Linked DNA regions of Homo sapiens. The protein of the gene in region 1 purifies or fractionates together with the protein of each later gene. This does not show direct contact. Each region holds a gene or a part of one and is shown in the gene's direction. Other genes may lie near its edges.

Evidence for each region.
Region 2: the proteins of ADNP (region 1) and ZMYM4 purify together in Homo sapiens (affinity purification with mass spectrometry; 2 studies listed by BioGRID and IntAct, with this or other methods). This does not show direct contact.
Region 3: the proteins of ADNP (region 1) and ZNF644 purify together in Homo sapiens (affinity purification with mass spectrometry; 3 studies listed by BioGRID and IntAct, with this or other methods). This does not show direct contact.

What each region holds. Positions count from the first base shown.
Region 1 is NC_000020.11:50,929,366-50,933,118, reverse strand, and holds the start of ADNP (activity-dependent neuroprotector homeobox protein), read left to right. Parts: upstream 1-1,681; 5' UTR 1,682-2,293; intron 2,294-2,781; exon of another isoform or gene 2,782-3,753.
Region 2 is NC_000001.11:35,355,585-35,359,337, forward strand, and holds part of ZMYM4 (zinc finger MYM-type protein 4), read left to right. Parts: intron 1-3,237; exon of another isoform or gene 3,238-3,340; coding exon 3,341-3,753. UniProt on the Homo sapiens protein: Plays a role in the regulation of cell morphology and cytoskeletal organization.
Region 3 is NC_000001.11:90,917,300-90,921,052, reverse strand, and holds part of ZNF644 (zinc finger protein 644), read left to right. Parts: intron 1-2,898; coding exon 2,899-3,001; intron 3,002-3,753.

The sequences.
Region 1 (3,753 bases):
CATTTAGAAAAGAATCTGGAATATTTAGATGCATTTTTGTAGTAAATCTGGTGCTTAAACACTGTAAAATTAAATATTTACATCTGAATCCAGCATCCCATTTTGCTTTGTAAATGAGGCCAAAGATGAAATCCAGATGTTTTCCCTTGTATTTGTATTATCACTATATGGAATCTAAGTATATCTAAGAAAAACTAAACTTAAACTTACTTTGCTTATTTCATATTAGTTTTTATCTGTCTTCTGCAGTGTGTAATTAGATTCTTTAGTTTTCTGAATCAAATGCTTTGCCCCAACCCCTTTTTCCACGACTTTTTTCAGCTGTTTTCCCTTGAAATACTGACTTGGCTTTTAAAGATACATTTTATCACAATTGCAGAAATGTGTTGTATAAAAGTTTGTTAAACAGGGCTAACTGAAGTCTTAGATGTTGAACAGCTATGTGTAACCACAATTTATACTACTTGCAGCGAACTCAGATTATTTTCGGATGTTAAGTATGGCTTGAAACTATGTTAACTTGAAATGTAAAGAAACAGCAAAAGACAGGTGTATTTACCTAAAGATCACATATTAAGGAAACAGGCTTGGTTAATTCCTCACTATTGACATCTATTACTTGTCAATACATTTAACCAACCAATGATACTTTAAATCATAATGTTACTTTGAACAACCTACTTTAAAAGGTTGGTTCAAAAATGTTGAGGAGATAATGTATTGGTTGGGATTGACCTAAATTTACAAAGCAACCATGTGCTGTCTTATGCTACCCAGATTGTGGGAGCACCAAAAGCTATGTCCCTAGGACTACAAAGTGTGTTGTTTAAGGATCTTGCAGAGAGCCAATGCCCCTATTGGCAACATCACTTCTCATCCTTAAGTTTCACCAGTTGGGTGGCCTCAAGGCACTAGGATTCCCATTTTTTTTTTTATTCAGGTCAGAGAAGAGTCCATCACTGTGACTGGGAAGAATGTCAAGTCACAGGGTAACGGCGGACCTTAATAAAATCTCGGCCCCTCTGCACCGAATACCCCACCAGGAAGGGCTAAGGCATCCATGGGGTTGTGTCTCATCTCAAGTCGCTGTGTGAAGCACGAGGCCCTCACACCTCATTTAAGGCAGGAGGCGTCAGGGGCGACCGGCCAGGTGTCCCGGCGCCTTCCCGCCGCTTCTCAGCCGTGGAAGCGCGGGCATCTGAGCACGTGGAGCCGCCCCAGGCCGCCCCGCACACCCCTCCCGCCAGATGTAGTCCAGGCCCAGCTGGGCCCGCGCAGGGATCCCCAGCACGGCCACCTGACTGAGTGCTGGGCGTGCTGCGGCCCGCTGCTTCTGCCTCCGCCGCCGGCGCTGCGGCCAGAGGAAGGCGCCCGCCGAGCACACGGGCCCCGGGAGCGCACTGCGGCCATTATCCGCGGCGCCTCCTAGTGGGTCAATGGCAAATCCGCCTGGTTCTCGCGAGAGCTCCCCCCTCAGTGGGGATTATATAATTTCCCTCAAGCGGGGGTGGGGGTGCTGAGAGCACCCTCCCTCAGGAAAAGTTAGGTGCAAGCAGGGGTGGGAGTAAGAGGAACCCCCCCTGGGGAAAAGGGGGTTAGGGGTGCTGTCCCCACTGCCCCCCCCTATTTAGCTGGACAATGAGTCCTCTTATGCTAATGAGGCACTTACGTCACTTCCGCTCTTTCTCGGCCGCCATTTTGGCTAGGGCAGGTTCGGGGACTCGGTCCGAGGCGCTTGTATTGTCTGCTGAGGGGAGACGCGGGATCAGCCCCCTCCCCCGCCCGTTGCCGCCGCCGCCTCCGCCGGCCCGGTCTCCCCTCCGCCGCCCGCCGGGATCCATGAGCTGAACTCCCGCCCCCCCCCCCCCGGCCGCCGCCATCTTGTGCCCCCTCCCCCTCCCGCAGGCAGCGCTAAGGGGGATTTTGGCGTCTTCTCAGACACAGCTCCCTCTCTCGGTCCCCGCTGCTGAGGAGCGAGAGGAGCGCGGCCGCCGCCGCCCGCGCCGGTGAAGCCGCCTCTCCCACACCCTCCGTCTCCTCCCTCCGCCCCTCCTTTGTCTGCACCGCTCGACGACGCCGCCGCCGCCCGCCGCTCTGCTGCGCCCGCCGCGCCCCCCGGCAGCACCCGCGGCCGCGGCGCGAGCCGGAGTCCGCCGAGCCGGAGCGCGACGAGGCCCCGGGCGCGCCCTCCCCGCTGCCGCCACCGCCGTGCCGCCGCCATCCGCCCGCCGCCGCCGCCGCTGTCCGGCCCCCGAGCACGCCGGCCCCGCGCGCGCCTCGAGGCCGAGTCAAGGTAAGCCCGGCGCCGCCGCGCGCGGACCCGCGGCCCTGCCCTGCCTGGCTTCCCGACCCCGGCCCGCGCGGCCGCCAGTGCAGCCTGGCCCCGGGCGCGGGCGCATTGTTGTTCGCATCGCCGCCCTCCAGCCGCACACACGCTCCTTTGCACACCCCGGCGCCGACGGGTCCCCCGTCCCGGCACGGACCGCTACCCGACTCTGCTCCGGAGGTCCAGGCGCCTCCTCCTGCAGCCCGACCCCCTTCTCCGCCCTGTGAGCCCACCGAGGCCAGCACTCTGCCTGGCCGCCCGGAGCTTTTGCAGCTAAGGGCATCTCCCCCAGCCAGAACCGAGCTTCTCCCATCCTGGAACTAATCCCGTCCGCCCCCCACCCCCAAAAGGAGCCCCCCCACGCACACCCCCATGCCTTGAACCAGCCTTCTGCCAGGTCTGCCCACCCTTACCTGGGGGAGGGGGGACGGGGTTGGGGGGGGCGGGGAGCATGCATGGCATGGAGTGAGTCTTTGCCTCCCCTGTGCAATCCTTCTTCCCCAACCTGCCAGCTTTCCTCTTATCCTGACCACAGTTCACCACCATCCCTTTTCCCCAATCTCAGCTGCCTGGTCAGCACCTCTTTCGAACATTCTGAGCCCCAACTTTGCAGTAAGGTGGTAGAAAATGGAAATCCAGAGAGCTGCAAAAAGATTTTTTTTTAATGTAATGAATGGGGAGTAGTTTTGTGAACACACTCGTATTCACCTCTTCTTTCCTCTGGGAGGCCTGCCTGCCTTCCCCTCCCCCCCAACCTTGATCCCTGTCTGCTGGAAAAGGCGCGATTGCTTCTCTTCCTCTTCTGCCCAAGACCAAGACTCTAGGTCTGATATCCTTTTTAGCCACACACACACACCCCCCACACACGAAGTCTTCTTAATCTTCTTGAATTTACCAGTTACTCTGGACACTTCTTGCCATAACCCCATTTCACAGACAAAGGCTTAGGAGGGAAAAAGAACCAAACTGTTTCTGTGTTTGTCATGTTAATGATGTCCATCCCCACACACCCAGTTCCCATCCCTGATGCTTCTTGTGCCTGTATCTTGAACCTTCAGAATGAAAAAAAAAAAAATCTCTTGGATAGCTTGATACAGTTTCTTTAGAAATCTGCATTGTTGCTTCTGGTTTATGGCCATGGAGAAAATACCAGCCCCCACCCAAAATGCACCGCAGCCAAGTCGGCTAAAGGCGATGAGTGTTGGAGTCAGTAGGGGGCGCATTCTCTGCACTGGGTAAGGCTGCAGAGGGGGGAAGGGCCCCCGAGCTAGAACAGGATGTGCTTCACAGCGCCTTCTACAGACCATGGGAAAATGGGCCCAGCAAGACACACTCGCACTCTTAGTTGGTGAGCTGACAGCAACATGGCGAAGGATTAAGTGAGTCAAGAGCAGTGATTTTACTTCTTTTAAAGAGCCCACCCTGCA
Region 2 (3,753 bases), on another chromosome or scaffold:
TTTTAAATCAGTTTATCTTTTTATCTTTTTGATTTGGTTTGTGTTTTCTCATCTCTAGCCATTTTTAAAGTCACATTTGATCTTTTATATTTTTATTTATAACTTGATCTTTTATTCTGGATTTTTTTGGTCATTATTAGAAAGGCTTGTCTCTGCGACTCAAAAATAATTCTTCCATAGTTTCTTTAATATTACTAAAATAATTCTTCCGTAGTTTATTTAATATTACTGTTTTATTTCTTTATGCCTAAAACTTAGATACATCTGTAAAATTTTTTGATGTGAGTTAGGGATCTCATTTTTCCATATGACTACCCTTTTCTTCAAATACTATATCCTGAATTTAAATGTAATGATAAGGGGCTGGGTGCAGTGGCTCATGTCTGTAATCCCAGCAGTTTGGCAGGCTGAGGTGGGCGGATTGCTTGAGCTCAGGAGTTCAAGACCAAACTGGGTCTCTACAAAAAATACAAAGATTAGCCAGATGTGGCGGCATGCGCCTGTTATCTCAGCCACTTGAGAGGCTGAGGTAGGAGGATTGCTTGAGTCCTGGAGGCGGAGGTTGTAATAAGCTGAGATCATGCCACTGCACGCCAGCCTGGGTGACAGAGCCAGATCCTGTCTCAAAAAATGAACCAACTAACTAAATAAATAAGTAAATGTAGTGATATGGAAAGTTGCTTACAATATTACTTCTTAGTATTGACTTCTCATGCACTATAGAACTCATTGTTCTGACTACATAAAACACCTAATTTTTCATTTATGAAAAATTACAGAGCACATGCTATGTGGTCAGCTACTAATGATGAAACGTTGAGATGGCTCACCTGTAAGTTCTTCAGCATACATCTCCTAAGATTTTAGCATCTGTTTTACTATCTGTTGTCTCAATTGATTATTTTAGAAAGTATAGACAATTTTTCCAATTATATTATTGCCTCTACGTTTATTAGCAAACGTTCTTATGATAGAAACAAGCTTTTATCTCCTTCCCTTTGACATTATGGACTCAAATCATTATTTACCCTCATACTGTTTCTAATTTTCTGTTTATTTTTTCTAGCTCTGTGAGGAGGAAGAGTCATAGCTATCTCTTTCATCATTTTATCCCTAGAACCTAGTGCAATACCTACCACAGAGTGGTTTCCTAATAAATATGTACTGAATGAATGAATACTTCAAGCAGTGGGGAGCTATTGAAGAATCTCAAGGGAGGATGTAATGTGAAATGATTTATATTTTGGAAAGGTAATTCTGATGTCATTATGGAAGAGAGCAACTTGAGCAAAGCTCAGAAAAAAAAAAGAAAGAAACAGGGGGTTGCCCTGTCACATCACCCAGGCTGGAGTGCAGTGGCACAATTATAGCTTGCTGCAGCCTCAAACTCTTGGGTTCAAGTGATCCTCCTTCCTCAGCCTCCTGAGTAGCTAGGACTGCATGTGTGTACCACTACACCTGGCTGATTAAAACAAAATTTTTTTTTGTAGAGATGGGCTTTTGCTATGTTGCCCAGGCTGGTCTTGAACTCCTGGCCTCAAACAATCCTCTGGCCTCAGCCTCCCAAAGTGCTAAGATTATAGGTGTGAGCCACTGTGCCTGGTCCAGGAAAGCTTTCCTTTGGGTTCTGTATCAGTTGGGACCTGATTACAGATAATCCAACTCAAATCAACTTAACAAAAGGAATTTATTGGATTCCATAATCCAGAGAAGGGTTGAAGAACCAGCCACATGAAGGATGTAACTGGGCTTCAGGAACAAATAAGAGCAAGGATGCCAGTGCCACTAATATTTTTAGTCTTCGCCTCACTCTATTTTTATCAGTTCCAGTTTGTTTGCTGATGTATCAATTAAATGTGGTTTAGGCATAGAGTTTATAAGGGTATGGTTGCTTCCTGAGTATCCATGTGGACTGAATTAGTATACCTTTGAAGGTATTGTAGAATCCAGGAGGAGACGTGGAGTATTAGAACTAGGTGCTAAGTGGAAAAGATGGATTTGAGAGAGATAAGTAATAAAGTTGACAGAATTTGTCCAGGGGGAAATCTTGAGCAACTGCTGGTTTGGTGAATCTGTTAACCATCTGAGGGAAATATAAGAAGCATATGCTTGGAATGGGAGGGAACATGATGAGTTTTGATTTTAGAGATGCTAAGTTGGAGAACGTGTAGGAGCTAGTTGAATATAGACATCCGAAATCTTATAAGAAAGGTCTAAGCTTAAGTGCTTAGGAAGTCAGTAGCAAAGGTAAGTGTTATGGAGGTGAACAAAATAGCTCAGTCTGAGTGTAAAAGTAAAGAGAACAGGAATCTTGCAGAAAAGCTAACATTGAAGCCATGTGAACAGAAGAAGAGTATAAAATAAATTATAAGGCAATTAAGGAAAGTAAGAAATAAGAGTACCAAAGAATCCAAAGGAATTTTATCCATGAGGGATATGCCATTTAGGAATTGAAAAAAGTCAATTTGCTTTGACCATTAGGAGATCATTGATGATGTTAATGAGAAAAGTTCCAGTGGAAAGTTGGGAGCTGATTGTATTAAGCTCAAAGGGTTAATGATAGAGATGAAGTAGAAGCAAACTAGGTAGAATTTTTTTCCTACAAGTTTGTGAAGGGAAGATGAATGAGGGCATTGTAGGGTTAGGGCATGAATGAGGGCATTGCTTTGTTTTGTTTTGGAATGGGAGAGATTAGTATATATTAGTAGTTTTAAACAGTAAATAGTCTTTTATTCTAGGTTGGATAAAATTTATTTTTATGTGTAAGTATTAACTGCCGTCAGTGTTTATTAGTGTTAGTGCAGAGAAAATGGGACTCAGACCAAAGACCTGAGTGCTAATCTCAGTTTTCCCTGAATAATCGCCATAATAATTATAATTACCATTTTATATTCCCTTCTATTTGTCAGTCATTGTGTTAGTAGGTCTTTTGTACATACTATCACTAATCCTCACCACAAATTTATCTCCAAGGTGAGTATTATGCTGTTGTATAGATAGACTCTGAGAGTTTACTTTTTAGGATTACATAGATTTTCAGGATCATGCTTTGATTTCAACACAGATATGTCTGATTCTGAAGTTGGTGCTCTTTTCTCTATATCACGTAGCTTTCTTTTCTAACCTAAAGTAGTTTCTCAAGTTTTGGCTCCTTGTTTCCTTAACTGTCAGATAGGAATAGTTATATCTGTCACACCTATATCAAAGTGTTAAATGAATACTATGGTAATATCTGTATTTTGTTTGAAAAAATATTTATTTGGTTAAATACCAGACTGACCTTATCATTGTGGTCATCTTTAGCACTATCATTTGTCTAAACAGTATTTTACTTTTTAAGGTGGTGGTATCATGGATACAGAAATGTCTGAAGATATAGACCACAACTTAACTCCTACCCTTGACAGCATGTCTTATGGAATGCCGAATCAAACAGGATCTGAAAATTCATTGCTGGATGAAGATGATTATTTTTTGAACTCTGGGGATCTTGCAGGAATTCCAGTCGTTGGTAGTGACAATGAGGATGAACAGGATTTTAGTTCAAAGGACAATCTTGTTTCTTCAATTCATACTGATGATAGCTTGGAAGTAGAGAGAAGAGTCACACAGCATGAATCAGACAATGAAAATGAAATACAAATTCAAAATAAGTTAAAAAAAGACTTTCCTAAACAATTTGATCAGGTTTCTGTCTTTAAATCAATACGGAAAGATTTTAGTCTAGTAAGAGAAAACAGCAAAGAGACATTT
Region 3 (3,753 bases), on another chromosome or scaffold:
TTTGTGCAGTTTTAATATGTTAAATACTCAATTTTAAACAGATTTTCCCAAAGGTATGGGCAGTATCACAGGAGTGGGTTTGGATATTGGCATTAGAAAAACTATTGTAAAATATGTTCATGTTTCACCTGCTCAAAAATATAACATTTCAGGAGATAATAAATCTAGAATTGATGAAGATATTAAAACACTGAGGCATTTAGATTTCAATTTCCAAAGTTCCCAGATTTTTAATATTTTAACTTTGTGAATAAGTTTCTAGGGATTCTCAGTGCATGAGATTCTGTAACCTTAACTTTGGAGCCCTGGGTTCTAGAGATGATTGATCAGTCATAAGCTGGCAGAGTTGTCCTGCTTTCCAAGGTTATAATACCTTCAAATACTCATTGCTACAAAAATGATGGCATTCTCATTTCAAGTTTAGATCTGATCATTCATAAAACAGCCTAAACTTAAGAGTTTCCACAGTCCATAAAGCATCAAAAGCCATAAAATAATTCTTTTTTCCCTATTAAAGAAAAAGCCAAAAATATTTCTGTATTTTAGAATAAACATTTCCAGTTCCATTTTTAAAATATTAACAACATGTAAATTTAAATGCTTTTGTAACTGATAAAATGTTCTTTTGCATATTTCCCTACCATCCTCCTGCCCTTCTTCCTCAATTTGCTTTACACCCCTAACATTAACATTCTGTGAACAAATTTTTAAGGGTTGTTATAATGTATTCTATTTGTATCCTACAGTAATTTATTTGCATTTTAAAAGGAGTTTGAATACAGTGTGGCAATTTTGACAACCAGCAAGCTCATCAAAGTAAGATTCTACCTGTAATCTTATGATACACCAAATGCCTGCTCTATTCTGCCTAACACAGACAAGGATCCATCTTTACAGATGGAAAGAATAGCTGACATCTAGTAGCACTTACTCTTTGAGTTCCCTGAACTCTATTTCTAGTGTATGAATCACTCATAACCCACTTAAATTCAGATTGCTCACCAAAGCGATTAGGAAAAAGGTTTTTCCTACTGGGTACAAAGCATAAGGTATTTCACTCTTGTAGTTGTTGTGAATAACCTAGTTTCTGTACATAAGCTGGCTGGTCAGTGATTTATATCTAGGATAATGAAGTATGTGTGACTGCAGCAACATATTTAAACAAATGATGCACAATGTTGTACAGGAATATTACCTGTATTAAATAGGAGTAAAACATTTTCATTCATAGGCTGTCTAAATATCAATGGTTAAATTACTGAGTTTTGCTTTATTTTTACTCCAGAAGTATTTGTTGAGTTCCTACTACATGCGAGGCTCTTGACTGAGATAACTAATAAGATCCTTATAAGATTTTTCTATTCCAGAGTTTGGTTGTTTAGCTTTGAATTACCCATTCTTTAATACCTAACTTGACTTCTAGTAGTTCTTTACTTATTAGACTCTTCTTCTAAGGATAAACAGAAAAAGACTGTGTCCTAGATTTTACTTTTGAATAGGCAGGTGACAGGAAGCTGAAACCAGTGGCTTCAATGAGATTTAGGTTTCTTGTGGTTTTGAATTTTCTATATGACATTTCTGTTATCATTGCCATTTGACTAAGGAACTATGTTTACTGGTTTTGTAATAGTAGCATCTATTCTTTTGGAATCTGGACTTTGAACAATTCGTTTCACAGAGTCATTGAACAGCCAGTTCCTTCTCTCTTACTTAGAATTTTTCCAGGGAATTTTTCACATGGCAGGATAATGGAAGAAAAGCCATTTGGGTAACTCTTCTGTTACATTTGTATCCCTCCCCCCTTGGATCCCTACAGATAAATTCTTACCTTCTCTTCCTGCTAATTGACCAGCAGCACCCTGGATTGCTATCATCCCTTTGTCCAAAGAAATGGTGTAGCTGTATTCAAAGACCTATAAAATGTTATGTGCTATCTATTGCTACCTATAAAAAATACCTTTTTTTCTTTTTAAAATCAGGTTGTTTTAGAATAAATAAAGGAAAAGTCAATTAATGGAAAAATTTCAAGAACAGTTCACATAAAATTTTGGTCTATTTTAATTTTTTTTTTTACCTTTTCAAATCACATTTTAAAATAAGCAGTTGGAGAAAATGTAAAATGAAAAATATGTAAAGAATAGTTAGCATTAAACATCAGATCCAATTGTAAACTTACGTGAGATAATATGGATTTATATTTATTTTCTAGTAAAATAAAACTTATATGATTGCATAATTGATTATTGTATATGCAATACAAATTAAGTTCAAAAATGAAAGTTGAGCTTTTTTTGTCCTTTCAAATGTAGGGCCAGCATACAATTTTAAGAGCTATTTATTATAAAATTCATGGTGAATCACTATGAAAATTGATTTTTCCTTGAGCTTTTAATTACATTATCCATATTCCCTTACGAAGTTTTCCAAGTATAGAAGACCTACTTAATGGAGCAGTAATCAAATGCAAACTTAATTTAATGATCTCAAATAAAAGGTTCTACTTTTCTGGAAATAAGATTAAACCAGATATTAAAATTATGTATGATTATAAAAGTAAAGATTACCATTATTGTAATAATTGACCAATTTAGTACTTTCAAGTTATTTAGTTACATTTTCTCAGTTCTAGTTTGGTGTGGTAAAGCATTATTTGAAAAGGCAGTATAGGAAGAATACAGATAGTATTCTTCAGTACAGATAATACCGCTGTACAGTACAGATAATATTACTGCTATTACAGAATCAGCAAGTTGAATGCATGCTTCAGGGAATAGGGAAATGAATGCGGACTTTTTCTAACTGATTTAGATGGTCTGTCTGACCTCTCTAGAAAAATATGTGTGTATGTATATTTTGAAATATATAAGGAATGTTAAGTCTTTCTCTTCCCCTTTTTAGCCTTAGATTGTAAGCAAAAGAAATCAAGGTCAAGATCTGGAAGCAAGAAGAAAATGCTAACATTACCTCATGGTGCTGACGAGGTTTACATTCTCCGATGCAGGTATATGCCTATATTGCCAAATCTGATCAGTTTCTTCATACTTTGCTTTGAAACATATTAGCTATTTCATTTGGGATTTTTAATTTGTGGCAGAGTGCATTCTCAACAATCAAGTTATAAATGAACTTTTGGAGATAGGCTTAAAATCTTAATTCAGCTCACAATATCCGTACTTCAACAACTAATGAATCAAGTTTTTTACATTAGCCAATAGTAATGTAAATCTATTATACTGTGATTTATTAAAGTAGCTTGGCCAGGTGTGGTGGCTCATGCCTGTAATTCCAGCACTTTGGGTGGCCAAGATGGGTGGATCACTTGAGGCCAGGAGTTCAAGAGCAGCCTGGCCAACATGATGAAACCTCGTGTCTACTAAAAATACCAAAATTAGCCAGGCTTTGTAGCGGGTGCCTGTAATCCCAGCTACTTGGGAGGCTGAGGCAGGAGAATTGCTTGAGCCCAGGAGGCAGAGGTTGCAGTGGGCCGAGATCGTGCCACTGCACTCCAGCCTGAGCGACAGAGCAAGACTCTGTCTCAGAAAAAAGAAAAAAAAACTGGCTTTCCTTGTGTTTATTTGGTTTGTATGGTTTAATTTTGTTTGGTTTGATGTTTTGTTGTCTTGAGTTCTCGCTTATTGGGAACACATTTTCTCTCCCCTCATAGTCACGCCTTCTTCCGTACTCACACTCACACACAACACACATGAAGAAACATAGACACAATGCCATTTAAGGAATGCTAAACTGGGGAAG